Regions from separate parts of the Homo sapiens genome. Here regions 1 and 2 are each linked to region 3. Evidence: fine-mapped QTL for protein levels in blood plasma. Region 3 holds a variant in brackets. A gene starts in each other region. All regions are shown on their forward strands.

Region 1 (10,399 bases), not on the chromosome of region 3:
AGGCGGGAGGATTGCTTGAGCCCGGGAGGCGGAGGTTGCAGTGAGGCAAGGTGGCATCACTGCACTCCAGCCTGGGCCACAGAGCAAGACTCCACCTAGAAAAAATAAATACATAAAAATAAAAGAGTAGGCAGAGACCTAGTTTATAGACAGAGAATAAAACAATATCCAAACATGAGGTCTTTCAACAAGGTGCTTTATTGGAGAGTACAGTGTGAGATGAGGCAGATAGAGGTGATGCTTTTGAGAGGTGATATTCAACTCTGACAATACTTCTTGGTGTCCAGGTTCTTGTGTGCCTTGTTATATGGAGCTTTTGAAAAGCAGATGGCAGCGTTGCGGTCGCAGTTGCAAATGAAGGCCTCACACTCTTTGTTTTTGCCTGGAGAGGGATGAAAGGAGAGGACTGAGCCAAGGTGGACCCTGTTTTGTACAATCTGGGGCAAGAAGAATTAACTGGAATAAGCTGGCAGCCATTCCACTGATGCACATTTAGGGCTGACAGATTAAGTGAATACAAGTACATCAGGATGCCCAGTTAAATTTGACTTTCAGATAAACAATGAATGCAATATTTGGGACATATACCCCCCAAAAAATTATCCATTGCTTATCTGAAAGTCATATTTATCTGGGCATCCTGTGTTTTTTTGTTTTGTTTTGTTTTTAAGACGGAGTTTCCCTTTTGTCGCCTAGGCTGGAGTGCAGTGGCGTGATCTCAGCTCACTGCAACTTCTGCCTCCTGAGTTCAAGTGATACTCCTGCCTCAGACTCCTGAGTAGCTGGGACTACAGGTGCTCGCCACCATGCCCAGCTAATTTTTGTATTTTTATTAGAGAGGGTGTTTCATCATGTTGTCCAGGCTGGTCTCAAACTCCGGACCTCAAGTGATCCATTTGCCTCGGCCTCCCAAAGTGCTGGGATACAGGCGTGAGCCACCATGCCCAACCTAGTTTCTCTACTTTAAAGCATGTATTTTAAAAATTATGGAACATCCTTAAATGGAATACTACATAGACATTTAGAAAAATTAGGTATGCCTGCACATGGAAATTTTCCCAAATAAAAAAAGCTAGTGTATGCCCCAAAAATCTGGAGGAATATGTAACTGGTTATCTTTGGGTAGTAGGATTATAGATGCCTTCCACTTTCCATAATAGATATTTATGTAGAGTTTGAAGTTGCATTACTTTTGGCTTGTTTACTTTTATAACCAAAATAAACAATAAGATTACAGTTAAAATGCATTTAAACTTTATTACATATAATTTACGTATCTCTGCTTACCTTCAGGAATCTTATTAGTTTTGTTTCTCTCCGATCCTTTATTTTATTTATTTATTTTTTTGAGATAGAGTCTCGCTGTGTCGCCCAGGCTGGAGTGCAGTGGTGGGATCTCGGCTCACTGCAACCTCTGCCTCCCAGGTTCAAGCAATTCTCTTGCCTCAGCCTCCCGAGTAGCTGGGACTACAGGCATGCATCACTACACCCAGCTAATTTTTGTATTTTTAGTAGAGATAGGGTTTCACCATATTGACCAGGCTGGTCTCGAACTTCTCACCTCAAGTGATCCACCCACCTTGGACTTCCAAAGTACTGTGGTTACAGGCTTGAGTCACTGTGCCCAACTGAGTTATTTTTAATTAATATGAACAAACATCCTCTAATGCAGGTTTCTTGTCTTAGTTGCAAACATTAAAAAAAAACTGTGTGTGAGTGTGTGTGTGTGTGTGTATTTCTCTGGGGAGAGGGTTCATAGCTTTCATCAGATTTGTAAATTTGGCCTTCTAAAGTGGAGCAGGAGGATGTATAAGCAAATTAAGCCATATTATTCAGTGACTAAAATAGTAACAATGAAAAAACAGTAACAATAAAGGTTTGAGGCAATATGAAAAAGTCATAACAAGGTGATAAGTGAAAAAGCAGAATGCAAGATTGTATTTATTCTGCAAAGTTGTCAAGATTGTTTTAAAAAAAGAAAAAGAAAGTTTATATCTAGGCTGTGCATTCATCAATTATTTATTGAGCACCTACTATATGTCAGACACTGCTCTAGATCTGGGGATATAGCAATAAAGAAAATAGACAGTAATCGGCCAGGCACAGTGACTCACGCCTATAATTCCAGCACTTTGGGAGACTGAGGCAGGCAGATCACTTGAGGTCAGGAGTTTGAGACCAGCCTGGGCAACATGGTAAAACCCCATCTCTGCTAAAAATACAAAAAATTAGCCAAGCATGGTGGTGCACGCTTGTAATTCCAGCTACTCAGGAGGCTTAGGCAGGAGAATCGCTTGAACCCGGGAGGCAGAGGTTGCAGTGAGCTGAACGGAGGTTGAGGTGATGAAGTGAGACTCTGTCTCAAAAAAGAAAGGAAGAAAATAGGCAGTAATCCCTGTTCTGTGGATCTTACATTCTATTGGAAAGATGGAATGTAAAGAAATAAGTAGCCGCACATGGTGGCTCACCCCTGTAATCCCAGCACTTTGGGATGCCAAGGTAGGAGGATTGCTTGAAGCCAGGAGTTTAAGACAAGCCTGGCCAACGTAGTAAGACCCAGTCTCTACAAAAAAATTTTTTTAATTAGCCAGGCGTGGTGGTGCACGCTCGTAGTCCCAGCTACTTGGGAGGCTGAGGTCAGCAGATCCCTTGAGCTCAGGAGGTTGAGGCTGCAGTGACCTATGGTTGCACCACTGTGCTCATGCCTGGGTGACAGAGCAAGACCCTGTCTCTAAACAACAACAAAAAAAAACCCAAACTGTCACCACTTACAAGCTGTGTGATCTTGGGCAAATAGCTCAGCCTTCTGAGCCTCAGTTTTCTTATCTGTTAAGTGAGGATAATTGTACCTATCCCATAGTGTTGTTCTGAGGATTAAAGGAGACACTGCCCAGAACCAAGAAAATTAACACTAAATCATGGCTGTTGTTACTATTATTTCCCCCCGGCCTACTGAGAACCAACTAGAATTCATAGGTCAAGGAAGGGATAAACCTACTGCTACAGGTGATTGCCGAGCCAGAGCACGAGTATGAATAGGTGTGGGTGTACGGGTTGTCCAGCAGAAATTTACAGCTGTCCAGCTTCTTGGCCTGGTCATAGCAGTTGTCATGTGTCTGGCAGCACCTGGAAAGTGGGAGGGACAGCTGAGATAGGAGTAAGTGCAGAGCAATAGGTCAGCCCTCACCTGCCCACTCTCAGGAACAGGTGGGGATGACTTCGCCAAGATGCTTCAGGAGAAATGATCCTATGGCTTGAAAAAATATAAGTCCTTTTATCATATATTTATTGAAAGCATTTTTTTTTTTTGAGACAGAGTTGCTCTGTTACCCAGGCTGGACAGCAGTGACACGACCTTGGCTCACTGAAACCTCCAACTCAGTCTCCCAAGTAGCTGGGGTTACAGGCGCTCGCCACCATGTCCGGCTAATTTTTGTATTTTTTAGTAGAGACAGGGTTTCACCATGTTGGCCAGGCTGGTCTCGAACTCCTGACCTCAAGTGATCCGCCCGCCTCGGCCTCCCAAAGTGCTGGGATTACAGGCATGAGCCACCGCGCCTGGCCTGAAAGCGATTTTTAACATGGTTGCAAGAATACAGTAAAATCCTGTATTCAGAAGGTGCAGTGACAACCACTGCTAGAAAATGACACGTGGATAGTTGCTGTGATGTTTACTGTTGCTACATTCTGCCACTGGAGGGCAGCATCGCCCACTGTTTTGCACGTCGGTCATTGTTTCCATCTCTAACGGGGTGCGTTCGCTACAGGGTCCTCTTGGAACATATTTGTTTATTTGACAAGAGGTGAAAATATGTTATCCTTAGCAGATATGCAAGTCCCCTTTGTATGCCTCGTGAGATCCTTGGCGTGTGCCCCACCCCGCCCCCGGCAGGCACTCCAATTTTCCTGCAGGCGGATCACTTACTTGTCCAGTTCATCCACGGGGGTGCCTGAGCCCCCCAAGCCACAGTAGCAGCCGTAGTTGTTGTATTCCAAGAAGGGGTCACTCCCCGGGATCACGCACTTGATCATTTTGCGGAACTGCCACACGGCCCGAGGGCTGATGCCGCTGTCGGCGGCGGCCACTGCAAGAAGACATAGCCAGAGTTCAAATCGGTCTGCCAGCACCCCGGGGACACACTGCCTTCCTGCTCCCTCGGGTCCCACGCTGCCTCCCTGACCCCTGCCAGCTGCCTCCTCTGAAGACCGTTGGACCCAGGAACCTGGTAAAGTGAAAGTGGGTAGAGGTTTTTTTTTTTTTTTAATGAAAACTTTATATATATAAAGTTTATATCTTTGTGTGTGTGTATATATATATATATCTTCTTCTTTTTCTTCTTCTTCTTCTTCTGGGACCCTACCGCCTCAGCTAGGATTACAGGCATGTGCCACCCAGCTAGGCCTGATAGTTTTTTTTTTTTTTTTGAGATGGAGTCTTGCTCTGTTGCCCAGGTTGGAGTGCAGTGACACGATTTCAGCTCACTGCAAACTCTGCTTCCCGGGTTCACGCCATTCTCCTGCCTCAGCCTCCCTAGGTCAGATAGTTTTAAACTATCTGCACTGTTTATCCAGTGAATATTTATTGAGCACTTACTATGTGCCAGGCTCTGTCCTAGGAGCTAGAGATACAGCAGTGAACAGATATAATAATAATAATAATAATAATAATAATAATAATAATAATAATAATCTCTAACCTCATGGAGCTTACAACCTAGTGGGAGAGAAAAACAATAAATAATAAATGTGATAAGGCCGGGCACGGTGGCTCATGCCTGTAATCCCAGCACTTTGGGAGGCCGAGGCAGGCGGATCACAAGGTCATGAGATCGAGACCATCCTGGCTAACACGATGAAACCCCGTCTTTATTAAAAATACAAAAAAATTAGCGGGGCGTGGTGGCAGGCGCCTTTAGTCCCAGCTACTGGGGAGGCTGAGGCGGGAGAATGGCGTGAACCCAGCAGGTGGAGCTTGCAGTGAGCCGAGATCGCACCACTGTACTCCAGCCTTGGCGACAAAGCAAGACTCTGTCTCAATAATAATAAGAATAATAATAAATGTGATAAGTAAGGAAACTGGATACTGCATTAGAAAGGGGAAGAATAGAGCAGGATGAGGAGAATCTAAAAGGGAGGTCACCCAGCCTGGCCAACATGGTGAAAACCTGTCTCTACCAAAAAAAACACACAAAAAATTAGCTGGGCATGGTGGTGTGTGCCAGCTACTTGAGAGCTACAAGTCCCAGCTACTTGAGAGGCTGAGGCAAGAGAATTATTTGAACCCAGGAGATGGAGGTTGTAGTGATCTGAGATCACGCCACCGCACTCCAGCCTGGGCGACAGAGTGAGCCCCGTCTCAAAAATAAAATAAAGTAAAATAAAAATAAAAATTAAAATAAAATAAAATAAATGGGAGATTGGCCTAACTACTTAGTTGAGTAAGGTGGGAGGATCACTTGAGCCCACGAGTTGGAAGCTGTGGTGAGCTATGATCATGCCACTGAACTCCAGCCTGGGTGATAGAGCAAGACCCTGTCTGGAAAAAAGAAAATAAAGGCAAGCTTTCTTAGCTCAGGCAATCTGAGTTCAGACTTGCAGGTTGAAAAAGTGCCAGCCTTGAGGGAACCCCAATAGAGGAGCCCTTAAGCCCCACTGGGAACCTCGAATTGAGACTGCGGGGCTGGCCATCCCTGTTTGCTGTGGCCTGTGGCCCCCATTCCAGAGGAGTGAGATCTTAGCTCACTTGGGAGAGAAAGGCGGGTGGAGCCGGGGAGACTTGCCTACCTGTGAGCAGCACAGCTAGCACAAGGAGTTTCATCTTGCAGTCAAGGTGAGAAAAGAACTGAGATGACCAGTCTCAGGTATAGTCTTATAGTCAGTCTCCACACAACCCTGCCCAGATAAGGCTGGAGTGTTTGCTTTGCTCTTGGCTGAGTTTGGGGCTGGCCTTGAATCTGTCTGTTGCAGGAATGACCCTGACGATTTGCCAGCATGGGATCACTGGAAAATATGTTATGCATTTGTCCTTAGCAACTGTTAACCAAAGGGATGGTTTCTGGAGTTTTCAGATCTTACAATCTTGACCCTCATACCCACCACTTTGTACTCAGCCCAGCTTCACGGGCTGGTTGGGGAAAGCAAAGCCGTCAGTTCAGTCGGACGCTGGGATAAGGGAGACAAGAAGGAAGTGCAGCCTGGGCAACATAGAGAGACCTCATCTCTAAAAAAAAAAATGTTAACCAGGTGTGGTGGTGGATTGCACCTGTGATCCCAGCAACTCAGGAGGCTGAGATGGGAGGATCTCTTGAGCCAGGGAGGTCAAGGCTGCAATGAACAGTGATTGAGCCTCTGCAGCAGAGTGAGACCCTATTTCAAAAAAAAAAAAAAAAAAAGAAAGAAAGAAAAAAGATCGCTGCCTGCAGCCTCAATGTCTTATCAAGTGCCTGAATCTGTGCACTGGGTCTGGTTGAATAGTCCCATCAGTCGTGCACCTTGCAGATAAAGAGACAGGTTCAGAGAGTTGCGGTAACTTGCCCAAGGTCACACAGTTGGCAAATGACAAAATAGGGCTCCAGTTTAGATCTGTCTGATTCCAAGGCAGAGGTTTTATTTTTTTCCACCACTCCGCTCTGCAGTGTGGGTTTGTGAGAAAAACCTGGGCTTTGGATTCCAAAGGCCTGAGTCTGAATTATAGAATACTAAAGGGCATTAGAACTGTCATATCAGAGGCCAGGCACGGTGGCTCATGCCTGTAATCCCAGCACTTTGGGAGGCTGAGGCTGGCAGATCACCTGAGGTGGAGAGTTCGAGACCAGCCTGACCAACATGGAATAACCCTGTCTCTACTAAAAACACAAAATTAGCCAGGCATGGTGGCTTATGCCTGTAATCCCAGCTACTCCGGAGGCCGAGGCAGGAGAATGGCTTGAACCCTGGAGGCGGAGGTTGCGGTGAGCTGAGATCACGCCATTGCACTCCAGCCTAGGGAACAAGAGCAAAACTCCATCTCAAAAAAAAACCTGTCACATCACATATCTATTTATTTATATATATTTTTTGAGACGGAGTCTTGCTCTGTTGCCTAGGCTGGAGTGCAATGGCGCGATCTTGGCTCACTGCAAGCTCTGCCTCCCAGGTTCATGCCATTCTCCTGCCTCAGCCTCCCAAGTAGCTGGGACTACAGGCACCCACCACCACGCCCGGTTAATTTTTTTTTTTGTATTTTTAGTAGAGATGGGGTTTCACCGCATTAGCCAGGATGGTCTCGATCTCCTGACCTCGTGATCCACCTGCCTCGGCCTCCCAAAATGCTGGGATTACAGGCGTGAGCCACCGCGCCCGGCCAAATATCTACATAACATTGTTTAGCTGAAATTCACATAACATTAACCACGTTTAAGTAAACAATTCGGGGGCATTTAGTACCTTCACAGTGTTGTGCAACCATCACCTCTATGGGGTTCCAGAACATTTTTATCACTCCAGAAGGAAACCCTGTACCCATTAGCAGTCACACTCCCTCAGCCCCTGGTAACTGCTAATCTGCTTCTCTCTCTCTCTCTCTTTTTTTTTTGAGACAGAGTTTCGCTCTTGTCGCCCAGGCTGGAGTGCAATGGCACGATCTCGGCTTACTGCAACCTCCGCCTCCCAGGTTCAAGCGATTCTCCTGCCTCAGCCTCTCGTGTAGCTGGGAATTACAGGCGCCTGCCAGCATGCCTGGATAATTTTTGTATTTTTAGTAGAGACAAGGTTTCACCATGTTGGTCAGGCTGGTCTCAAACTCTTGACCTCAGGTGATCCACTCCTCAGCCTCCCAAAATGCTGGGATTATAGGCATGAGCCACTGTGCCTGGCCTCTGATCTGCTTCTCTCTATATAGATTTATAATTGGTTAACTTGGTGCTCTTCTGTTCCTATGTCACCTCTACAACAACCCTGTGGGATAAGGAGGGCCTGGTTATTTAATTTATTTATCTGTTTTTTTTTTTTGAGACAAAGTGTCGCTCTGTTTCCCAGACTGATGTGCAGTGACACGATCATAGTTCACTGCAGCCTCAACCTCCTGGGCTCAAGCAATCCTCCCACCTTAGCCTCCCGATTAGTGGGGACTACAGACATGTGTCACCACACCTGGCTAATTTAAAAAAATTTTTTGGGCCAGGCACGGTGGCTCATACCTGTAATCCCAGCACTTGGGGAGACCGAGGCAGGCGGATCACGAGGTCAGGTGATGGAGACCATCCTGGCTAACACAGTGAAACCTTGTCTCTACTAAAGATACAAAAAATAAGCTGGGCATGGTGGCGGGTGCCTGTAATCTCAGCAACTTGGGAGGCTGAGGCAGAAGAATGGCGTGAACCCAGGAGGCAGAGTTTGCAGTGAGCCGAGATCACGCCACTGTACTCCGGCCTGGGCGACACAGCGAGACTCTGTCTCAAAAAAATTTTTGGAGACACGGCGTCTCCCTATGTTGCCCAGGCTGGTCTTGAACTCCTGGCCTCAAGTGATCCTCCCATCTAAGCCTCCCAAAGCATTGGGATCACAGGCGTGAGCCACTGTGCCCAGCAACCTTGATAGTTTTGAGGAGTATTGGTCAGGATGACCCTCTCTTGGAATTTGTGTGTGTGTGTGTGTGGGTGTGTGTGTGTGTGTTTGTTGTAGTCTCACTCTGTCGCCCAGGCTGGAGTGCAGTGGCACAATCTCGGCTCACTGCAATCTCTGTCTCCCAGGTTCAAGTGATTCTTGTGCCTCAGCCTCTGAGTAGCTGGGATTACAGGCACGTGCCACCACGCCCAGCTAATTTTTATTTATTTATTTTTATTTATTTTTGAGACGGAGTCTCACTCTGTCACCAGGCTGGAGTGCAGTGGCGCGATCTCAGCTCACTGCAACCTCTGCCTCCCGGGTTCAAATGATTCTCCTGCCTCAGCCTCCCGAGTAGCTGGGACTACAGGTGCACACCACTGCGTCCAGCTAATTTTTGTATTTTTAGTAGAGACGGGGTTTCACCATGTTGGCCAGGATGGTCTTGATTTCTTGACCTCATGATCTGCCCGCCTCAGCCTCCCAAAGTGCTGGGATTACAGGCGTGAACCACTGCACCTGGCTCTCTATTGGAATTGTCCTGTGTTTTTCTCATAATTAGATTACAGTTATGGGTTTGGGGGAGGAAGACCACAGAGGCAAAGTGCCATTTCATCACATGGCTGCTTTATGTTTAATCATCTCTTTTCTGGGCCGGGCGTGGTGGCTCATGCCTGCAGTCCCAGCACTTCGGGAGGCCGAAGCGGGTGGATCACCTGAGGTCAGGAGATCGAGACCATGGTGAAACCCCATCTCTACTAAAAATACAAAAAATTAGCCGGGCGTGGTGGCGGGTGCCTGTTGTCCCAGGTACTCCCGAGGCTGAGGCAGGAGAATGGCGTGAACCCGGGAGGCGGAGCTTGCAGTGAGCCGAGTGCCACTGCACTCCAGCCCGGGTGACAGAGTGAGACTCTGCCTCAAAATAAATAAAAAAAAAATAAAAATAAAAATGAAATACCATTAAAAGTTCAGTTTCTCAGTCACAATGGCCACATTTCAAGGCTCATAGACACATGTGGCGAGTGGCTGCCAGATTGGCAGCCACAGAATGTTTCCATGATCACAGAAGGTTCTGTTGGACAGGGCTGCTGTGGATTGTCACAGAGCCTGTCTCAGGGCTGCCCCATGGGAGGTGGGGGCTATGAGGACTAATGGAGGGGGACTTGGTTAGGTCAGAATCCCACATCAGCTTGACTGAATGGTCCTGCCTCTGCAGCCCCAGAATGAGTGGAGTCTGCCCAAGCAAAGGGAAGCCTTGCCCAGCAAAATGTTCAGTCCCTCTTATGTGGGTTCCTTGGGGTCATAACAAGACAGAGGACCAGGCACTGCTCCTAGGTTTAGGCCTGAAGGATGCTAAGTGGGTGATTGGGGGTGGCTCAAAGAAGGAGAAGCAGCTATGGTTGCAAGTAAAGTTATTAATTACCCTTTTTTTCCAGGCTGGAGTGCAGTGGTGCAATCTTGGCTCACTGCAACCTCCACCTCCCAGGTTCAAGTGATTCTTCTGCCCCAGCCTCCTGTGTAGCTGGGACTATAGGCAAGTGCCACCACACCTGGCTAATTTTTGTATTTTTATTAGAGATAGTGTTTTGCCATGTTGGCCAGGCTGGTCTCAAACTCCTGCTCTCAAGTGATCCACCCAACTCGGTCTCCCAAAGTGCTGGGAATACAGACATGAGCCACCGCACCTGGCTAATGAGTTACTATTAACTGAGCGCTAACTCCATCCCAGGTCCCATATGCTAAGAACCTGGCACAAAGGTCGAGGTAGGTCCAGTACAAACTTCATTTTACAGAGAAGACAGCTGAGGCTGAGAGA
Region 2 (10,399 bases), not on the chromosome of region 3:
GAAACCCCATCTGTACTAAAAATACAAAAATTAGCTGGGTGTGGTGGTGCATGCCTGCAGTCCCAGCTACTCAGGGGGCTGAGGTGGGAGAATCACTTGAACCTGGGAGGTGGAGGTTGCAGTGAGCCGAGATCATACCACTGCACTCCAGCCTGGGCAAGAGAGCAAGACCCTGTCTCAAAAAAAAAAATTAATTTGAGGAAATTTTATGGTTTGGTTTTGTTTTGTTGGAGACAGGGTCTCACTCTGTCACCCAGGCTAGAGTGCAGTGGCTCCATCTCAGCTCACTGCAGCCTCATCCTTCTGGGCTCAAGTGATTTTCCCATCTCAGCCTCCTGAGTAACTGGGACCACAGGTGTGCGCTACCACACCTAACTAATTTTTAAGATTTTTGTAGAGATGGGGAGGGGGAGATCTCACCATGTTGCCCAGGCTGGTCTCAAACTCCTGGCCTCAAGCAATCCTGCCTCAGCCTCTCAAAATGCTGGGATTACAGGCATGAGCCACTGTGCCCGGCTGAAATTTCACTTTTTTCCAATATTGGATATTTTCATCCAGGAATATAAAATGCTTTAAAACAAAGTTGTTAATTTTTTTAATAAACGTTTTTAGCCTAATAAGGAAAAAAAAGAAACAAAAAAGAAAGGGAGTTGGGGAAGATACGTTGCTGACATGACTAAACTGGTTCCAAGTGTTGGGGGAGGAAAACTTTTCCTCTATCCTCTTAGGTTCAGTACTTGAAGGCCTGAGAATTAAACCGATAAAAGAGAAATGACCGATTTTTATTCAGAATGTAGGGAAGTTCATGGAAGAGTGTGACTCTAGAAGGAAGTTAGAATTTGCGGGTTATGTACCATCTCAATAGAAGAAGGGGAGGAGGAGAAAGGACACTTATAGAAAAGTAATTTTTAGGAAAGATGAATGGGCCCTTAGGAGAAAAGATGGGAGCTATTATAGTTTCGTGACCTGACTGTTTAGGTGTGGTGCCAACTATTCTCCCCTCCAGCAATAAGTCAATTTTCCCTGGTTTTGAGAAACTCCTGGGAGGGGGATTTATGACAATGGAGCTCTTTTGCAGGGCTCTGCATTTAGGCAGACAAAGGAGTTCAGAAAAGAGCCTATTCTCATCCAGCCTGGGCAGCATTGCGAAACCCTGTGTCTGAAAACAAACAACAACAGCAACATAGCCGGTGGTGGCACGCACGTGTAGTCCTAGCTACTTAGGAGGCTGAGGCAGGAGGATCACTTGAGCACCAGGAGGTTGAGGCTGCAGTGAGCCATGGTCGCACCACTGCATTCCAGCCTGGGTGACAGAGCAAGACTCTGTCTCAAAAAAAAAAAAAAGAAAGAAAGAAAAGAAAAAGGCCCATTTTCAAATGCCTTCTGCTCAGAATAATTTTTATGCTTCAGTGGCATTCTCTAGACCCCTTCACAAGCCATGGGGATTCCGCTGCCCTATGGGAAAAGTGGTCATTGGTAGAGGCTGCCGTTGTCAGAATCCAGAGAGATTTGTAGGGAATAAAGTACAGATGCTCCTTGACTTACGATGGGGCTACATCCTGATAAACACATTGTTTAAGTTGAAAATATCGTAAGTTGAAAATACGTTTAATAGGCCGGGCACGGGGGCTCACGCCTGTAATCCTAGCACTTTGGGAGGCTGAGGCAGGCGGATCACAAGGTCAGGAGTTCGAGACCAGCCTGACCAACATGGTGAAACCCCGTCTCTACTAAAAATACAAAAATTAGCTGGGCGTGGAGGGCACGCCTGTAATCCCAGCTACTCGGGAGGCTGAGGCAGGAGAATCACTTGAACCCGGGAGGCGGAGGTTGCAGCGAGCCGAGATCGTGCCATTGCATTCCGGCCTGGGTGACAGAGTTAGACTCTGTCTCCAAAAAAAAAAAAAGAAAAAGAAAAAGAAAATACATTTAATGGGCAGGTGTGGTGGCTTGTGCCTGTAATCCCAGCACTTTAGGAGGTTGAGGTGGGCGGATTGCTTGAGCCTAGGAGTTTAAGACCAGTGTGGGCATCATGGTGAAACCCCATCTCCACTAAAAATATAAAAATTAACTCCGGGCATGGAGGCTCACACCTATAATCCTAGCACTTTCGGAGGCCTAGGTGGGCAGATTGCCTGAGCTCAGGAGTTCGCAACCAGCCTGGGCAACATGGTGAAACCCCATCTCTACTAAAAATACAAATAAATAAATAAATAAATAAATTAGCTGGACGTGGTGGCATGTGCCTGTAGTCCCAGCTACTCGGGAGGCTGATTCAGGAGAATTGCTTGAACCTGGGAGGCAGAGGCTGCAGTGAGCCGAGATCGCACTATTGCACTCCACTCTGGGCAACAGAGACAGACTCCATCTTCCCCCCGCCACAAAAATAAATAAATAAATAAATAAATAAATTAGCCAGGCATGGTGGCACACGCCTATAGTTCTAGCACTTGGGGAACTGAGGTGGGAGGATCACTTGAGCCCAGGATGTCAAGGCTGTAGTGAGCCATGATCATGCCACTGCATTCCAGCCTGGGTCACAGAGTGAGACCCTGTCTCAAAAAAAAAAAAAAGTATTTAATACACCTAACCTACTGAATATCATAGCTTAGCTTAGCCTACCTTAAATGTGCTCAATCAGAATGCTTACATTAGCTGGGAAAAATAACACAAAGCCTATTTTAGAATAAAGTGTCGAATATATCTCATGTAATTTATTGATGTTCTACTGAATGCATATTGCTTTTGCACCATCATAAAGTTGAAAAATTGTCAGTCAAACCATTGTAAGTGGGGACCATCTGGTTCCTTGAGCTGTGGTTAGACTGTGCCTCTGCTGTGTAGGCGTGTGATGCTGAAAAGCAGCAGAAATTGAGAGTCTACAGGAGCACTGGCCGTTGGAAATAAAATGGAAGCTACATAATGGTTGGGGTCTTGGTCACTTGCTTCTGCAGAGCCCAAAGCCCAACTCCCTACTCACTTTTGAAGACCAGGGACATTTTCCTTATGCCCCCCACAGTCCAAAACACGGTGCCAGGCACACTGTGGTCATTCAGTGAACACATGAAGGGGACATGAATGCAGATCTCCAGGACCGAATGTGGCACCAAGAAGCGTGACTCAGCCCTGCTCAGGGCCTGAGACCCCTCCTGGGTTAAGGTATTGAAAGCTCCTCTTGTTGAGCACATAATTCATATGTGGCAGACACCATTACCTGGTTTCCTAATAGCCATTGCCCCCTTCCCTGCCAACTGAAACCCAATATTGTTTGGGCATCAATGAACCTGGCCCCAGGAGAAGGATCTTATTCCCTTTGCTTTCCCAGCGTCCCTTGCAGCTAGAAGTAGTCAGATAACCTAGTTCTAGCCACTGAGATATGAAGAGAAGTCGGCCTTGAGGATTTGAGGAAAGATAAGAAGAGGGTATGGTCCAGGTGCCATGGTTCATGCCTGTAATCCCAGCACTTTGGGAGGCCGAGGCAGGTGGATCACCTGAGGTAAGGAATTCAAGATCAGCCTGGCCAACATGGTGAAACCCTGTCTCTACTAAAAATGCAAAAAATCAGCCAGGCGTGGTGGCAGGCGCCTGTAGTCCCAGCTACTTGGGAGGCTGAAGCAGGAGAATCGCATGAACCCAGGAGGCAGAAGTTGCAGGGAGCCGAGATCGTGCCACTGCACTCTGGCTTGGGCAACAAGAGCAAAACTCTGTCTCAAAAAAAAAAAAAAAAAGGGTATGCAAGAAGAAACTCTCTGCTCCTTCTCCCGCCTTCCCAGCTGCCAGCTACTCCATGCTTCCTGCCTTCGAATACGGTGAGAACGTGAAGTCATGAGCTGCTGCTAAGGCATGTGGCAACCTTGAAGAGAAGGTCAAGAGCTACCAGCCACCAAAAGAATGCCAGCACTTCCTGTGTCTTTGCTTTGGATTCATGAGAAATATACGTTCCTATTTGCTTCAGCCATAATTACTTGGGTTTTTCTGCTACTCACAGTTGAATGCAATCCTAACTCATAAGCCTGTGGTTACAGGAGGATTCATTGATCACAGAACTGCAAGATCCTGGGGCTGGGACGACATCGAAGTTTCATTCAGTTCACTGTCCCTCACTCTCTGTGGGAATCTCCTCTCTAGCATCTCCACCGAGGGGTCAGTGAGCTTCCACCTGCGTACCTGGATGATGGGCACCTCAGTACTGCCTAAGGTAACTCATGTTTGATGGCTCCAGGGGATATACAATTTTTATATTAAGGCAAAATTAAATTCCTTGCAGTTTCCACCCATTTTTCTTAATGCGAATAATTGGGAAAGAAAAAGGAATCATAAGGCCGGGCACGGTGGCTCATACCTGTAATCCCAGCACTTTGGGAGGCTGAGGTGGTGGATCACCTGGGGTCAGGAGTTTGAGACCAGCCTGGCCAACACGATGAAACCCCGTCTCTACTAAAAACACAAAAATTAGCCGGGCGTGGTGGTAGGCGCCTGTAATCCCAGCTACTAGGGGAGGCTGGGGCAGGAGAATCGCTTGAACCTGGGAGGTGGAGGTTGCAGTGAGCCAAGAGATCACTCCGCTGCACTCCAGTCTGGGCAACAGAGAGAGACTCTGTTTCAGAAAAAAAAAAAAAAAGGAATCATAGAAGCAGGGCAGTGGAGTTAGATGGTAGAGTGCCAACATTTTCTGATTATGTGACATTGGGCAAGCTCCTCTCTGAAACTTGGTCTCTATCTATAAAGTGGAGATGAGAAATTCTCCCTCCTGGGATCCTTGTGAGCATTTGCTGGCAGAGAGTAAGCTCATAGCAATTGAGAGTGGTCTGACCCCTTAACACATGAGTTGTGTCAGCTAGCTGTCATATTTGAGAATTGTGTCCAGAAAAGAGGTGAGAGCCCAGGATTCTGATGCCTCTGATGCAGGGTGACGAACATGGGCCATTAAAACTCCTTACCCACAAGTGTGTGTGTGTGTGTGTGTGTGTGTGTGTGTGTATGTGCGCGCGCATGCACATGTGCCCGCTTGTCTCTTTGAGAACCGGAGGGACAAGGAGGGCATCCCAGGTAGGTGTGACTTCTCCCCAGAAATGGAGGGTTTCCTAGGCTGGCTGGGTCTCCTTCACAGCTTTGTCTTCAGTCTCCAATCTGTTTGGCCACAACTTCTTCAGCCCCAGACCCATCCCTTGTTCTTCTGACCTGCCTGAAGCCTGCCCTGGTGGACCAAAGGCCTGATGCAACTTCAGAGAAGATGCTGAGTCAGAAAGAATATGCAGGAGACTGGGAAAGGTTTGCAGGAGGCCTTTAATTGTGAAGAGCGCAATCAGAAAACAGATATGCTGGTCAAGGAGGTGGCCAGCCCGGGAGATGCGCTGGAGCAGGGGAGAGATGCCCCTGCGCCTAGTGGCCTACAGCATTCTGGGCTAGGTGTGGGAGTGGGTGGGCAGTCTCACTGCTTGGAGCGTCCAGCGTCATGGCAGATGCCAAAGTTGGTGTTGGTGATGGAGCCCACGATGGTCTTGTCTCCCTCACAGGTCAGGCCACGCTCACAGGGACACTTGTAGTAAATCCCATAGAGCGTCTGCAGAGACACAGCCAATGGAGTCAAGGCTATGGGGAGATACTTTGGACATCACTTGTCCCCTGCCTGACCTAGAGAACCAGTAGGCCAGCCTGTGTTTTCGGGGAGTGCCTCTCCCACCTGCCTCCCCAGGGGTGCCGTGGGCCCTGGAGACCCCAGCTCTGACCTCTGCTCTGGCTCATTTGCTCTTACTAGCTTGATCTCTCTGGGGAGCCTCTATTTACCCAGCCATGAAATGGGGATAACAAATCCCCACCCCCACCCATCTCACTGGTCACTCGGGAGGGTCAAGAGAGATGATGGGATGGGAAAGTGCTTTGACACCTGTCGACCTCCCTCTCGTCTCCTCAACATTCAGTGTCCAGGCTGACCCCCCTCCCTGATCCCACTCACAAGTGTTCAGGGCCCTACTCCCCATTCTCCCCCACCCACGCCAAGTCCTCAGGCACCCACCTTGACAGAGCACTCGCTGTTCTCGCTGGCCATGGATGTGCAGCGGGCCAGGCCCAGCGCACTTGAATGCTGGCAGCAATTGCTCTTACACTGGGCACTATTCATGCAGAGCTCACCGTTCTCCTGCCAGGAGCAGCCAGTCAGCCCAGGCCCCACTCCCTCAGGTCCCTTCTCCATTCAGACCTGTACCCACCACACACTACCACTAACAGTGTCTCCCCTGGTAGGGATGTGTGTGAAGGAGTCCATCCCCTGGGTCTGGTGGCCTCTGTGCCCCCCACCCACGTGAGAAGTGGGCATGCGGTGACAGAGAAGCAGACTTGCACAGAGGGTCAGGACCCCTGGGTTCTAGTACCGGCTGTGCTACCAACCTCCTGTGTGACTCTGGGCAAGTCACTGCCTCCCAAGCCTCAGTGTTCCCATTTGGAATGTGCACACAAGGCCCCTAGACAAGTTCTCCAAACCACTCTGGGTCCCACACCTCTTTAAGGAGGCGGTGAAGATTGCATCTCCCTGCAAGACTCCTTCCTCCCCCAACAGATCTGATCTATAATCTCCAAGGGTCCTGGACCTCCAAGTCCAGCCATGGCCCCAAGTTAAGAGAGTTCAGAACCTTTCAACCGCATGGACGTTCTGGAAGGGCTTTCCCAGCCAAGACCCATGGTGGAGAGGTGGTGTGGGGCAGTGGTGGGGCCCCAGCTGAACCACTTTCCAGCTATGTGACCTCAGGCAGGTTGCTCACCCTCTCTCTGTCTGAAGACAGGGCTGACTCTGAAAACACCTCCCTCAGTGGTTATTATGAGAACAGAATGAGTAAACATCTCCGAGGCATCTCCATAAGTCAGAAGCTGGAATGATTGGCGCAAAGCATTTTCTCAGGATGGAAGCCCAGGGCTCTGGATTTTTACAAAGCTCCCTCGTAGGGCCAGGTGAGGTGGCTCATGCCTGTAATCCCAGCACTTTGGGAGGCCGAGGTGGGCGGATCACGAGGTCAGGAGTTTGAGACTAGCCTGGGCAACATGGTGAAACCCTATTTCTACTAAAAATACAAAAAATAGCTGAGCGTTATGGCAGGCACCTGTAATCCCAGCTTCTTGGGAGGCTGAGGCAGGAGAATCATTTGAACCCGGGAAGCAGAGATTGCAGTGAGCCGAGATTGTGCCACTACACTCCAGCCTGGTGACAGAGCAAGACTCCGTTTCAAAAAGAAAAAAAAGAAAAAAAAGGTCCCTCATAGCCAGGTTGAGCTGCTGCTCTGAGCATGCTCCAGTTGGAGCTGGAGAGGGGCTGATCAGCCTTTCCTGTGGCCTCTGGGAAGAGGCATAGGACAGGACATGGAAGTAAACAGAGGGATGCAAGATGCCACTCCTCCCAGCCCCTGCCAGTCCAGGTGGAGACATCAGAGGTCAAGGTCCAAGCTTAGGAAGTCTTCATCTGGGGACTCAGGAGGCGCCTCCCCTGAAGACCCTCTTACCAGGTTGATAATGATCCCCCGGGGGCCAGGAGCTGCATAGGCCACAGAGAGGGCGACAAGCAGGAGGATCAGGATCTTCTCCATGGTGAGTGGGACAGCTGGTGTGGGTGGCGGGAGACAGAGCCAGCTGTGGTGATGGGGCTATAAAAGGGGCCCTGACCTCACGAGATCCACCTGCATCCCACAGGGCTGGCCGTGGGCAGAGGCACAGCTGTGGCCAATCTGCTGTGGGGCGGTTCCTGATAAGGAAACTGGGTGAGTACCTGGTGGCCTTTTTCGTGTGTGTGTGTGTGTGTGTGTGTGTGTGTGTGTGTGTGTTGGTGATAATTGTGTTGCATCGTGGTTAAGAGTATGGACTGTGTACAAGTTATTAGTGAGGCAAACTTACTATCTGTTCCAACTATTCTGCCTTTCATCTTATCTGTCAACTAAGGATAATTTAAAGAGTTGTGAGGGTTGAATTAATACACATTTATGTGTTACATATATATAAACATTATTATATACAATTATAAGAATATATTTATATTGTATATTCCCATATGCCACATAAGCAGTGGGTAAGGGTGGCTGCCCTTGTGTCTTGAGCTCCTGGGCAGTGCCTGGACGAATCCAAGGCAAGAGAGGCACCTATGGTGTGAGTGCCTGCTTACATTCTGTGTACTTGGGGCCTCTCTGCCTCACTATAGTCAGGCCTTGCCTTTGGCCCACCCAAGCCCAGGTGTCTAGCAGTGTCAGACTCCAGGGACGAGGATCCTAGCCTCCCACCCCTCAACCTTCCTTCAGTCTCCTCGGGGGATTCCAGGCCATGCCCAGATCCCTGGGGCTGACAGTTCTGCAACCCCCAGCAGGCCAGGGTGTGTGTGCTTTCACTTTGGCACCCTCCCCCTGCCCTCACACCAGGGGCTGCCTGCAGGCCTGACTCAAGGGCCCTTAGGAGGCCCTTCCTAAATGCCTCTCTCCCCTTTCCTTTCTACCTCACTTACTATCTGCAATTCCAGCATCAGATACTCACCCCTTTAGTTAAGGTTTCCACTCACGCTGCCCCCTACCCAAGGCCACGTGCGCGCGTGAGCAGTCGCTAGTCCTGGCTGAGAATGAAGAGGTCTCATGAGCCTCAGATGGAGCAGGGGCCTCAGGAAGCTGGGAAGGGCACAGCTGCCTGAGTTTGCTCAGGCATGGGAACAGAGCAGCTTTTCCTGAAGGACTAGTCATGGCAGCCAGAGGCCCCTGCCCTTCCCCTCTCCATCCCAGGAGGTAGAAGACAGCTCCACTGAGAGGCCCAGGCCTCAAGCACAGCTTTTAATTTAATTTAATTTAATTTTTTGAGACAAGGTCTCACTCTGTCACCTAGGCCGAAGTGCAGTTGTGCCATCTTGGCTCACTGCAGCCTCCACCTCCTGAGATCAAGCAATCTTCCCCCTAAGCCTCCCAGGTCTAAAACTCGTGGGCTCAAGCAATCTTCCCACCTCGGCCTCCTAAAGTGTTGGGATTACAGGTGTGAGCCACTGTGCCCAGCCTCAAGCACAGCTTTGATCCAGACCAAGCTGGCTTCAAAATTCAGCATTTACTGGAGCTACGTGGCCTCAGACACATTATTGAAAGTGAAGCTCCCTGAACCTCACTTTCCTTATTTATCTTAGGGGGATAACGCCTCCTACTTCCTGAGGTCATGATTAAGACAATGCACGTGGAACACCTTCGGAAGTGCCTGGCACATGGTGGGTGCCCAGCCATGTAATATGACCCCCTTCCTCTCACCTTTACATCCCTGGGGTGTGGAATGTAGAGAAATAGCTGGAGGAACAACCAGGAGACTCTCAAAATGAGAAAAACCAATTTGGTTCCAGCGATGCAGAAATACCATTGATGAAAGAACACTATCCCCCCTCTCTTTTATAGAACTCAATGTTTGAAAGCACTTTTTCCTATGAGTTCACTCTGATCCTTCCTTCTCTTTTCTCTACCTGCTCCCCACCCCCAGGACCTCTGTGAGGTGAGCCACAGAGAAGGGAATCACTATTCCCTTCTCACAAGTCAAGATGGAGACTGGCAAAGGAATCAGAGGAGTGATTTCTCTCCATGAAGGGAGCTGTGAAAACCATCAGCCCTGTCCCTAGTTGGTCTCAGCCAAGCTTGCAAAGAAAAAAGGCTGGAGTTTTTTCCATTACAAATGAAGTGTAGCAAAGAGAACTTTGACACTGTATGTGCTTCTAAAAGGAAAGCAAAAATTAAGTACCTGTCAATGAAAAGAGTCAAACTCTGTACAATATTTGAATAGATTTATTCTGAGCCAAATATGAGCAACCATGGCCTGTGACACAGCCCTCAGGATGTAACCACTGAAGGGGTTCACCTTGCCCACTACCTAGATAGAGCCGATTCATCAAGACAGGGGAATTGCAGTGGAGAAAGAGTATTTCATGCAGAGCCGGCTGTGCAGGTGCAGGAGACTAGAGTTTTAGAGTTGTTGTTGCTGTTGAGACAGAGTTTCGCTCTTGTTGCCCAGGTTGGAGTGCAATGGCATGATCTTGGCTCACTGCAACCTCCGCCTCCTGGGTTCAAGTGATTCTCCTGCCTCGGCCTCTCGAGTAGCTGGGATTACAGGCATGTGCCACCATGCTCGGCTAATTTTGTATTTTTAGTAGATATGGGGTTTCACCATGTTGGTCAGGCTGGTCTTGAACTCCTGACCTCAAGTGATCCACCTGCCTCAGTCTCCCAAAGTGCTGGGATTACAGGCATGAGCTACCATGCCCAGCAGGGAGCAGAGTTTTTGAAGATAACTTGGTGGGTGGGGGGAAGCCAGTGAGCCAGGGGTGATGATTGGTCAGAGATGAAATCATAGGGACTCAGAGCTGTCTTCGTGCACCCAGTCAATTACTGGGTGAGGGCCACAAGATCAGATG
Region 3 (10,399 bases):
AGGCGAGCCAGGCAGCCTGGCCAGGAGCCCCAAGAACCCTGAGGCCCAGCTCCTGCCTGGTCCTGGTCTTCCCGCCCTGGTCATGCCCCTCTCTCTGGGTATGCCAGCCATGGGGACGGGGGCAAGCCGGTGGGGTTCCTTGTACTTCTGGACCACCCTCTGGGATGAGTGACTGGAATTCCCCTCCCCCCACATTGTCCTGAGCCACTCCCAGAGCTTCTGTGGCCATTTTCCTCCGGGACCTGATGTGGCGTCCCAGGGTGGCTGCTTGCAGGGCTGTGGCCTGGCGTAGAGGTGGGGGATGTGAGTGGACAAGAAAGATGTGGATGCCCCTGGGTGGGAGGCTGGGCCTGGCTAAATCCTCATGCGAACGTTCTCCCAGAACTCCAGGAGCAGAGACTCCTAAATCCCCGCCTGCCTTCCAGGTCATTGGGAAGGGCAGGTGTTCCGGGCAGAAGGGGAGAGTAGATCCTCTTCAAGTTTGATCTCACTCCTCTAAGGATTTAACCCACAGTGTGTGAGCTCCACTAGGGCTGGCCTGAGGGGGCCCTGCCTGTCACCACCTGCAGCTGCTGTGGCTCCTGACAGTGGCCCCTGTGCCTACAGCTTGCCTACAGTTGCCCCTCACTCGGCCCTCCAGGCCCACACTGGTCCTAGCTCTGTTCCCAGGAGGGCAGGCCCAGGGAGGCGGGATGACCTGCTCAGGGGTGCTGCCAGCAGGTGCCGGTGGCCGCTCACACCCAGGGAGATAGCCCCATGTCCACACCTGGCTACGGGGCTCCTGGCTGCAGCCTTGGAGCTCCCCAGGGCTCATGCTGATACTGAACTTGTGGATAAAGGGGTTAATGGAAGGACACAAGCCTGTTTTTCGGTTTCCTGAAGCTGCCCTAAGATGACAGGAAAGGGATGCTGTCAGAGGTGTCAAGCATCCAGATGGATGAGACGGGAAGAGACGCAGGAGCACAGCGTGGGGCTGACAAGCATGTGGACGACCAAACACTGCTGACATGGAGGGGCCGGATCGCCCCTCCGCAGGGACGAAAGCTGGGAAACAACCCAGTTCTTCCGCAGATGCCCCATGCTTTCAGAAGCTGGCGCCCGGGTCCCTGTGGGATGGGGTGGCCCTGGGACTCGCCTAGGAGGAGGGACGGCAATTCCGCATGGGAAGCTCCAGGGCCCCAAACCCCAAAATACAGAAGCAGCCAGTGCCCCCCTCCCTGGCCCTGGCAGGAGACAGGTTCCTCTCTAGAGGGGGCATGTGGACTCGAGTATCAGGCCCGCCCAAGCCTGGAGTCCCGCCTGAAACACGGATCCCAGCCTCCTCCTACTTGGCTCCTAGAAGCCGCAAATGCCCTTTGGGCTTCTCCACAGAGGCAGTTCTACAGTGAGAGGTTGCAGCCGGGTGAAGAGTATTTCCCCAGCGACACGCCCTTCCCAGAACACAGGATGTGCCCTTGTTAGAATACGGCCTGGGACATAAAATCAGTGAAATCACGGTGACGTCATACTTGAGTAGAGTGAACCTCCAATTCGATGACTGGTGTCCCTATATGAAGAGAACAGACAATGACACAGAGGAGGCGGCCAGGGGAACCGGCAGACATGGGAGTGCTGCGTCTCCAAGCCCGGGGACACCGGGGGTGCCAGAGGCCCCCGGAGCCCGGAAGAGGCAGGAGGCTCCTCCCCAGCAGCCTCCGAGGAGAGCTGACCCTGTCAGTGCTGCCAGCTCAGACTCCAGCCTCCAGAGCTGGCTGAGCATACAACCCTGTCACGTGAAGCCTCTTCGTTTGCGTCCTTTGCCTTGTAGCCCGTGAAGCCACCACAGGCCATGGTTGGGGCCTGAGAAACTCAGGACGAAACTGAGCTCCCACCCGGAACCCTGCCCAGGCCTCACCGACACTCAAGTGCAGGTCAGAACCAGGACACTATTTCAGACACAGGAGGTCTGAAGTGTACCTGCCAGGTCCCCGTTCTCAGGAAGCTACTGTGAGACGGGCACCAGCAAAAAGAAGGAATCAACCGAAACAGGAGGCGATGAGGAAAGCAGGAAACAGAAATACAACCAGGATCAGTGAAGGGCAGCACCATACCGGAGATGGACGCCTGCGGGTAACCCGGAGCTGCGGATCCTCGGGGGAGACGCTGCCCACACAGAGCACTGGTGCTGAACTAAGGAAAGCACCCAGAAGCCTGGGCAGGAGAGAGTCCAGGACCTCGTCACCCGCAGGAAGCAAGGCCTGTGCAGGAGCGGAGAGGCCTCCGGGGCCACCACAGCTCACCCGGGCCGTGTTTCCATGCCAGGGAACTAGAGGGGGCTCTGGAGCTGATCAGGAGGAAGAGGCCGACCCACCCGGAGTGAAGGATCCGCAGGAGGAGCGTGGGGAGGCAAGGAAAGAACATCCGCCCCCCACATCCCAGGAGACAGCCCAGGGTTGATACCTGAACTGAAGAGTCTCGGAGAAGCCCTGCAGGCCCAGTGTGTGGGGACAGAGAGGCCAACACGGAGCTGTTCCTAGCAGAGGGCAGTGCTGCCTCGGCAACGGGGGCAGGAGGGGGTTCCTGATGCACTTCGTATGCTTCCTAGGACCCTGCACATGCCTGAGAGACTGTGACCACATCAGAACCATGGCGACAAATCACGATGACGTCAGTGTCACCATCGCAGGGCCAGGTGCCTGAGAGACCCCCAGCTCCTGTCTTTCCCCCCAAGGGGAGGCTGAGGCATTGCCCCTGAGACCTCCCCAGTGTAGAGCCAGCAGAAGCTGAAAAAAGCTTCCAGAATTCCATAGGAACCCAGCTGCCCTTCTGGTACCTCAGTGAGGTGGAGCCGAGTGTCTGAGAGCAGGTGCAGGAGAAGGTGTGGGCTCCACCTGGGCCTCTGAAGCCAGGGGCCAGAATCCCCAGATCTAGGTCCAAGAGGGGGCTCCATGACCTCCCCATGCTGCTCCTCTGCTTGGATCCAGGATATAAGAAAGGAGGGGCACACACTGTGGGGGAACTCTGGGGTCCCCTGTGTGCATCAGCGAGTCCCGGGTCTGCCCCACCAGGATGCAAAGGGCCTGGCTGCTCCAGCCCCATGCTCACAGCCCTATAAGTGCACGATGGCACCCTATATCATCTAAGCGGGGCTCTCTGCCTCCTGAGGCTTTAGGGACACCAGAATGAGCCCCCCTCGGCGGAGTCTGGCTCTGGGTGTGTGGAGATGCCACCTGGGACGGGAACCCCAGGTGCATGGAGCCCCACTGCAGACACCATCCCCCGTGTGCCCAGCACCCCTTGCAAGGTTGGCCTTTCCCCAGCCTGTGGCCTCCTTACCTGGCTGCAGCTTGCTCGGCACCGGGACGGTGTCCACAGTGAGACATGCCGTCACAGCCCCTACCCCCCAAACCATGCCCACTGCAGAGACCTCCCCAGGAGCACTGACCAGGCACCCTCACCTCCACCCTGCAGGACCCCACGTGCCAGGATGCTCTGTGGGCCCCAGCAGCCCTAGGGACCCCACCCTGCCCCTGCCCTTACCTGTCAGAGGGCCCAGCCAGTACACCTGCACGTACTCCAGTAAGGTGTGTCCCGAGCAGGCAAAGGTCACAGAGGCGGCCAGGGCAGGGTTGAAGAAGGCAGACGTGAAGGGCCCGGCTGTGGGCAGAGCACAGACAGCCCTGGTCCCCAGCCCTGCCTGACGCCCCTCTGCAGGCCAGGACCTGATCCCCGCCACCGAATCCACACCGAGAGCCCCACTGTGTGCAGGCCTGGGAGCTGCTCTCGGCTCCTGAAGCCCCGCCTGGTCCCCCGCACCGATGGACACACGATGCAGCAAGGCCGGGTCAGCCAAGGTCTGGGTCAGGGGCAGCAGCTTGGGGGCCCCCCAGGGCCGTCCAACACCCTCGCGACATCTCACCGGGATCCCGTGCCCCGCCCATGCTGCCCTCCAGCACCCCACCCTGTGGGATGTGGCCTTCGAGAAAGACGGACAGAGAGAGATGGAGAGAGACACTAAGAGAGACAGATAGTGAGAGAGAGACAAAAAGACACAGAGAGAGACAGGGAGACAGAGAGAGAGGAGAGACAGAGAGAGAGAGGAGAGACAGAGAGAGAGAGGAGAGACAGAGAGAGAGAGGAGAGACAGAGAGAGATCTCAGAAATAAAGGAGCAGCAGCAGAGGAGAGAAGACGACATGGCTGTGCGATGTGAGACAAGGGAAGGCGGCGGCAGCCGGGCCGCTGTCCTGCAGCCCCAGGCCTGGGTGACCACCCCAAATAACAGAATCCACCAATACCGGGGACCTGCCTCTGGGCACGGAAGAGCAGGGAGTGGGCCTAGCGGAGGGCAGGGACCACAGGGACATGGAGTCTGCGGCCGCCCAGGTGTAAACCAGGACCCTGAGGATGGGCAGCTCCGTCCCTGAGACCAGGCGCCCTGTGCCTCGTGGAGGCAGGACCCTTGACGGGAGCTCTCCGGTGCCACCCAGGACAGAGGCCCGGGCAATCTGCCACAGAGCCGTGTCCCTGCAGAGCTCCCGCTCACCCGTGCCTCAGTTTCCCCAACTGTACGGGGCTCTGGTGGCACCTTCCTGTGGCCTTTGTGGTCCAGGTTCCGTGGTGTCTGCCCAGTGCTGGGTCGTGGGCAGTGCCATGGACCTAAGTGCTGGTCCTGTCCTGATTAGGACCTCGGACCCCCGGAAGGAGACCTGGCACCATTCTCCCTGCAGCCCTTCCTGTGGTGCCTGGAGCACGAGCCGGCTCCCCTGGCTCTCCCTGCAGCCCCAGCGCTGTGGACACCTGTCCTGGGAACTTGCTGAGCAAAGGCTTTCGTGGTGGTGGAGCCTAGCGCTCGGAGGGGAAAGCAGACATGGGGGACTGGATCAGACGGAGGGTCTGAGTGGAGGGAGCTCACAAGGGGGTGATGGGACCATGAGAGCTGGGTGCCACGGTTGGTCCAGGTGCAGGCAGAGATCGCAGGATGCAGGTGTCAGTAGGAGGCCAGGGAGGCCAACTGGGGCAGGTGAGACAGGACCTGTCGCTCTGGAAGGGGTGATAGAGGGTGCAGGGACTCCCACACCAGACCAGGAAACTGGGCTGGGCCTTGAATCGTCTGCCTCGGCTGTCCCTACTACCCCAGAGGCAGAACTTCTGGGAGGACCAAGAATAGCTGGGACTGGGGAGAGGTGCAGTGGGCAGGATGGCCCTGGCAGGGGACAGGCTGCTCCACCGCACCCCATGTCCAGCGCAGGCCCTCGTCTACCCGCCAGATCCCAGGAAATCACCGCCTCTTCTTGTGGGTTTGTTGGCCACCCGGGCCAGCAGCCCCCTATCCTGGGTGCAAACGGGCCTGAGTGTGCATGGAGGCCACACAGGTGAGAGGTCCTCAGGGGCCCAGGGGAAGGGGAAGCAGTGCTCACCCGTGTAGGCCGTGACGGTGACCAACAGAGCCACAGCGGGCCCGCTGTAGGCGGGAGGACTGTGCCGCAGGTGCAGGAGGGTCAGATGGAAACAAAAGGCGCAGGCGGCCTCCACAAGCGCCCCGTGGGGCACGGATGTGCGCAGGGCCGAGCTGCAGCTCTG[G/A]GCCATGAGGCTCTGCAGCAGGTGCAGGTCACTGAGCTCCCAGGCCCAGCAGAGGCGCGTCAGGGTGCAGGCGGCCTGCATGCCCAGCCCCTGTGCCGCCAGCTTCAGCAGCGTGCCAGGCAGAGACTCCTCGGCCATGAGGAACTCCTGCAGGGACACGGTGGGGTTGGCCGAGGCCCCGTCCAAGGTGACCCCGTGCGCCAGGAAGAGCAGGAAGAGCAGGGTGAGCAGCAGGTCAGGCCCAAAGTCCCCAGCCCAGGGCCCGAGCTCGACCAGCGTCCTCATCTCCAGGAAGCAGGCCCCGAGCTGCACCGCGCCCACCGCCTCCCGGGCGAAGACTTCATAGGCGCCCACTGGGAGCAGGGCCTTGGAGGCCCGCCTGGCTGCCTCACAGAGGGTGAAGGTGGCAAAGAAGAAGGAGAGGGACACGTTAAGACCTGCCATCGGCCTGGGCCCCCCGAGATGCTGTGCCTGCAGGACACCTGAGGGGACAGAGCAGGAGCTGGCCGGTTCCCACAACCCAGAGGGCCCAGGCGTGTGGGAGAGGGCACCTGGGCCTCTGGGAACACCACAGCTGCAGCCCCAGCTCCCGCCCCACTGGCTGCCACCCAGGTGCACAGCCAGGATGGCCACAGGGGCCCTGCCCCACAGCCTGGCATCATCCCGTCATGTGACACACCCGGATCCACTGGCCACGCTCGGCCAGCCCTGGGCGCTGGAGACTGGCCCAGCTCTTCAGAGCCTCCATCCGAGCTCCGCTCCTCCTACCTGCGCTCTTGGGTACCGGACCCCAATACCTGCTCCCTGCACCTGGCCCCTCTTGAGTCAGGGTCTCCCAGATCCTGCACCCCCTCCAGGTCCCTGCCTGAACAAGGGCCCCCATTTCCGCCTCCCTGCATGGATGCTGTGTCCCCATCTCAGTGAGGGCCCCAGGCTTATTGCACCTGCACTGTGTCCCCACTGGGGTGAGACCCCCACTGAACCTGCACTGTGTGTCCGCCTGGGAGGCCCCTCATGGCCCCTGCACCTGTTCTTTGACCCAGCCTAGGTGAAGCTCCCTCCTGCCTGCACCTGTAGATGTCTTCCCTTGAGTGAGTGCCCCCTGCTCCCTGCTCCTGGCTGTGTCCCCAGCTAGGCCAGGCCCCCTGCACGTGGCTGCGTCCCTGCCTATGGGAAGGTCCTCTCATTCTTGGCTCCCTGCACCTCCACTGTGTCCCCACCTCAGCAGGGACCCCCAAGCTTGTTGACCTGCCTGGGGTCTGGTCTGGGTGAGACCCTCCTCCACCTGCTCTGTGTCCCCTCTGGTCAAGAGTTGGCAGCAGCCCTTGCCCCAGCCCCACATTCCCTGCCCTGTACTGCCCTCACCTGCCCTCAGGAGAACTCAGGACCACGCCTCACATCAACGTCCCTCCCACCTTCCCGCCCCGAAAGCGCTTTCCAGAGATGAAAACCGAAAGTGCCATCGCCATTCACTTGAATTTCCTGCAGAGGGGCCAGCTACCCACAGCTGCGTGGAGAAGGCGCTGAGCCTGGGCGTCTGCAGTGGGAGATAGCTGGGCTGGGACCATCCAGAGCTCCGGACCCCGAGGGGATGGGACATGAGCCCTGTGGGCCCTGCGATGGGCCGTCTGTCACCCTGCAGCATGGATCCTGTCCACTGGGTCTGCACCCAAGCACTGGGACACCAGCCATGGCCATACGGGGTACAGCACGTGGGACCTGCTGGATGTCCCCCTCACAGCCCTTTCCCTCTCCCCCAGGACTGACTCCAGCACCCGAGGCCCTTCCCCCAACCTGGCCCAAAGCTCCCCTTTCTCTGAGACTTAGATTTCCTTTTGTTTTTGGAAACCCAGTTGGGTCCCACCTGGCGTCCCCCTGGCACAGCTGGGGAGACTGAGACCAGGAGGGAATGGACCTGCCTGAGGGCACAGAGGAGGCAGCAGCTCGCAAAACAAGGGGCGATTTTGTTTCAGTTTTGACCTTTCCAGTTCTGGGGTTCAGAATTTCCTCCAGTTAGGGAAGGTGTCTGGTCGCCTCCAAGGAGGAGGGGAGGCCCCAGGCTCTTCGACTCCCACAGGAAGATTGCCTGTCCCCCTCCCCAACCCGTCCACTGACCTCTCCCCAGAAGGCAGAGAAACCCCGGTTCCAGTAGGGCTGTGGCTGCCTTCGGTTGCCTGTTCCCTGTGCAAGTGCCCTGCCCTCTCAGAGTAGCAGAGGAACCTTCTGGAAGCCATAGAAGCCTGGCCTCTGCACAGGGAAAAGCCAGGTTTTCCCTTGTGGGATCCTGTGGAGAATGAGCTCAGACGGATTCCTCATATTCTAATCCGACACCACTGGAGACCTTGACTCCTCCTTCCAGAACGGGAACCCCCTTGTCCAGCGTCACGGATACCGGGCCCCACAGTCTCCCTGCATCTGCATTGACCCTCCACGGAGCTCACAGCAGGGAGGGTCTGCGTGGTCCACCTCTACCCCACGCACAGGCAAACCTGAGAAGGAACGTTTAATCACCATTCACAGCCCTTGCTTCTTTCTAGAGAAATAAAACAAACTTACACCAGAATATGAAAACAACGTGAAACACACAAAAGTTAAGTGTGAGCCCGTGCACTGTGACAGGTGTCAGCAGCGTGAGTCTCGCCAGCGTCAGGAGCTGGAACGTCTTCATCATCCCCGAGTCCTCTGGTCCTCCCTGCCCTTCCGCAGCGGGAGGGTCCACTCTTGTGGGTTCCCAGTCCTCCCTGAACTTCCCCAGAGGGAGGGTCCACTCTTGTGGGTTCCTGGTCCTCCCTGAACTTCCCCAGCAGGAGGGTCCACTCTCGTGGGTTCCCGGTCCTCCCCGCCCTTCCCCAGCGGGAGGGTCCACTCTTGTGGGTTATGTGATTCTAGCTTCCCGCTTTCTGTCCGGAGCCTGCAGAGGAATGGGACCACGAGCTACACGTGGGTTGGACCTGCCTGTTTTGAGAGAGGGCCCTGTCCCTGAGGGTTCATATCCCTTGAACATGGTTGAGAGTTTTGTTCCTTTTCATTGCTGACTTGAAGCCATGTCATGAAGAGCCACAGCTTGGCCGTTTTTCTGATGATGCCCATGTGGGTGGATTTTAGTTCTTACTACTATGAATAAAGCTGCTGTTAGCATTTTGGTCTATTCTTTCTGTAAACGCAGACTTTTATGTCTTTTGGGTAAATTCCTAAAATGCCCCGGGTGAGCTATGTCCACTGAACAAATCCCACATCTATAAATTTGGAAAGAAGACTTTATTTCCTATAAAGGGGTAGGGCCTTCAGGGTGGCCGTCCTGACACCCTGGGCACCTCAGCCTCTGGCAGAGCCCAGGCCGGGCACCTGGAAGGAGGGGGTTGGGGCAGGAGCTTCATGCTGAACAGGTCGGCTAAGGACACACACTCCATGGGTTGCTGGAGGAGCCGTGAACATTCAGGAAGGGGTCCTCACTCATGCATACTGAACAAACATGCATGTGACATGCGTCTCAAGTTTCCTTGGGGGTGGACACGTGATATCTAAATGTGTTCCTGTGAGGCCCTTGCCTGGAAAGGTGAAGCAGCAACACCAAGGCACTCGTTGCACGGCCCCTGAAAACCAGCCAGAACCAGTCCCTGCTGGGTGGTCCCCAGTCAGAATTACAGAAATCAGCCTCTTGGCCAATCAAACTTAGGGCTGGTGGCACAGAAGAGTGGGGCTGTGTGTCAGCATCTGGAGGGGGTGAGCTGCACCTGAGTGAGTGTGGCTTTCCTAGTGGCCAGCGCTGGTTTAGCTGCTAGAGAAAAAGAACCCTCCTGGCCGGCAGCCCCTGGTTTCTGCTTTTCAGTGTCTTGTGCGTGACTCCACCCCTGCCAGGCAGGGCCTCAGGTCTTGTTGATCATTTGCTGTCTTATCACCACAAGGAACCTGTTTTGTCAGTCTCCTCTTTATGTTCACCTTCATGCTGGTGAGTGTGGTGTCCCAACCACAGACGGAGGGGCTGTCACGCGGCGGGTCCCACCTCCCACTCTGTCATGGCGGGATTTTTGTCATGTTTTTCAGATTTCTCTGGAATCCCCTTGGCCAAGAAGGGTCCATTCAGCTTGTTGGTGCGGGAGCTCAGGATTTCATTTTTAGTTCTCACATGGCAGGTGAGTGAAAACGTTATAAGGGACTATCCAAACCTTTCCCGAAGTGGCTGTAGTATCTTAACTCTCACCAGTCGTGTGTGACAGTTTTGGTGTCTTTAAAAGTCGGTGGTGTCAAGATTTCACAACTACCTCTTCTGCTGATTGTGTGGTTCTATCTGTTCGTGGCTTAAACTTGCATTTCCCTCATGACAAAAAGTGTGAAACCATCAGTCATGAACTGTCTGTCCATTCCAATCTCTTCTGTTCATTTTTAAAGTGGGGCTGTGTATCTTTTTATTGATTTATGATCATTCTTTCTATATTCTGGATACAAGATTTTTGTGTGGGATTTGTTTTGCAGTATCTCCCCAGACTTCCTGGTCATTTTCTTTGTAGTGTCTTTTGATAACTAGAGCATTTTCCTTCGGATAAAGCCAAATTGATTATTTTTAAATGTGCTTGTCACTGCTTTTTCCTCCCTGCCAGGAAGTGTTTGTGCACTCTCAGGTCACACAAGAGATGGTAATTTGTCAGTGAGCTGAGGAAGGCAGATCTGGCCTCAGCTATGAGGGTGGGTAGCACCCAGCCCATTGCAGACCCAGACTCCGGAGGTTCCTCTGTCTTCTTGGGCTGGGGCGTCCATCTCCTCCTGCCCGCAGACACAGGAGTTTCTGGGTCCCAGGCCTTGCGCTCTGGGACTGACACCAGCGGTTTGGGCTTGGACTG

Which allele goes with the higher level. Positions count from the first base shown, and alleles are read on the strand shown. Strength reflects both the effect of a copy and how common the allele is.
With allele G in place of A in region 3, the plasma level of the protein whose gene starts at base 5,844 in region 1 is lower (weak association).
In carriers of allele G in region 3, the plasma level of the protein whose gene starts at base 7,609 in region 2 tends to be lower than with A alone (weak association).

What was found. PIP is the chance, under the fine-mapping model, that this variant and not a neighbour inherited with it causes the effect. Protein levels are from antibody-based Olink assays in UK Biobank. Linkage for the fine-mapping came from a reference panel and not from the study's own genotypes, which makes the PIPs less certain.
Region 1: it holds the start of PLA2G1B, and the variant in region 3 is fine-mapped to the plasma level of the PLA2G1B protein (UK Biobank, PIP 0.98).
Region 2: CLPS starts here. The variant in region 3 is fine-mapped to the plasma level of the CLPS protein (UK Biobank, PIP above 0.99).

The regions. Positions count from the first base shown.
Region 1 is chr12:120,321,936-120,332,334 of GRCh38, forward strand. PLA2G1B (phospholipase A2 group IB) reads right to left here and starts at 5,844. Exons shown (of 4, transcript NM_000928.3): 1 at 5,785-5,844; 2 at 3,926-4,085; 3 at 2,999-3,126; 4 at 180-382. The coding sequence starts at 5,818. The coding sequence ends at 258. RefSeq lists an enhancer at 3,741-3,800.
Region 2 is chr6:35,789,715-35,800,113 of GRCh38, forward strand. CLPS (colipase) reads right to left here and starts at 7,609. Exons shown (of 3, transcript NM_001832.4): 1 at 7,491-7,609; 2 at 6,017-6,139; 3 at 5,268-5,563. The coding sequence starts at 7,574. The coding sequence ends at 5,432. It also overlaps a transcript of CLPSL1 not described here.
Region 3 is chr2:240,676,833-240,687,231 of GRCh38, forward strand. AQP12B (aquaporin 12B) reads right to left here and starts at 6,053. Exons shown (of 3, transcript NM_001102467.2): 1 at 5,399-6,053; 2 at 3,520-3,636. The coding sequence starts at 6,005. LOC285191 (a long non-coding RNA gene) reads left to right here and starts at 9,502. Exons shown (of 3, transcript NR_149021.1): 1 at 9,502-10,399. The variant G/A (reference allele first, on the strand shown) is at 5,562.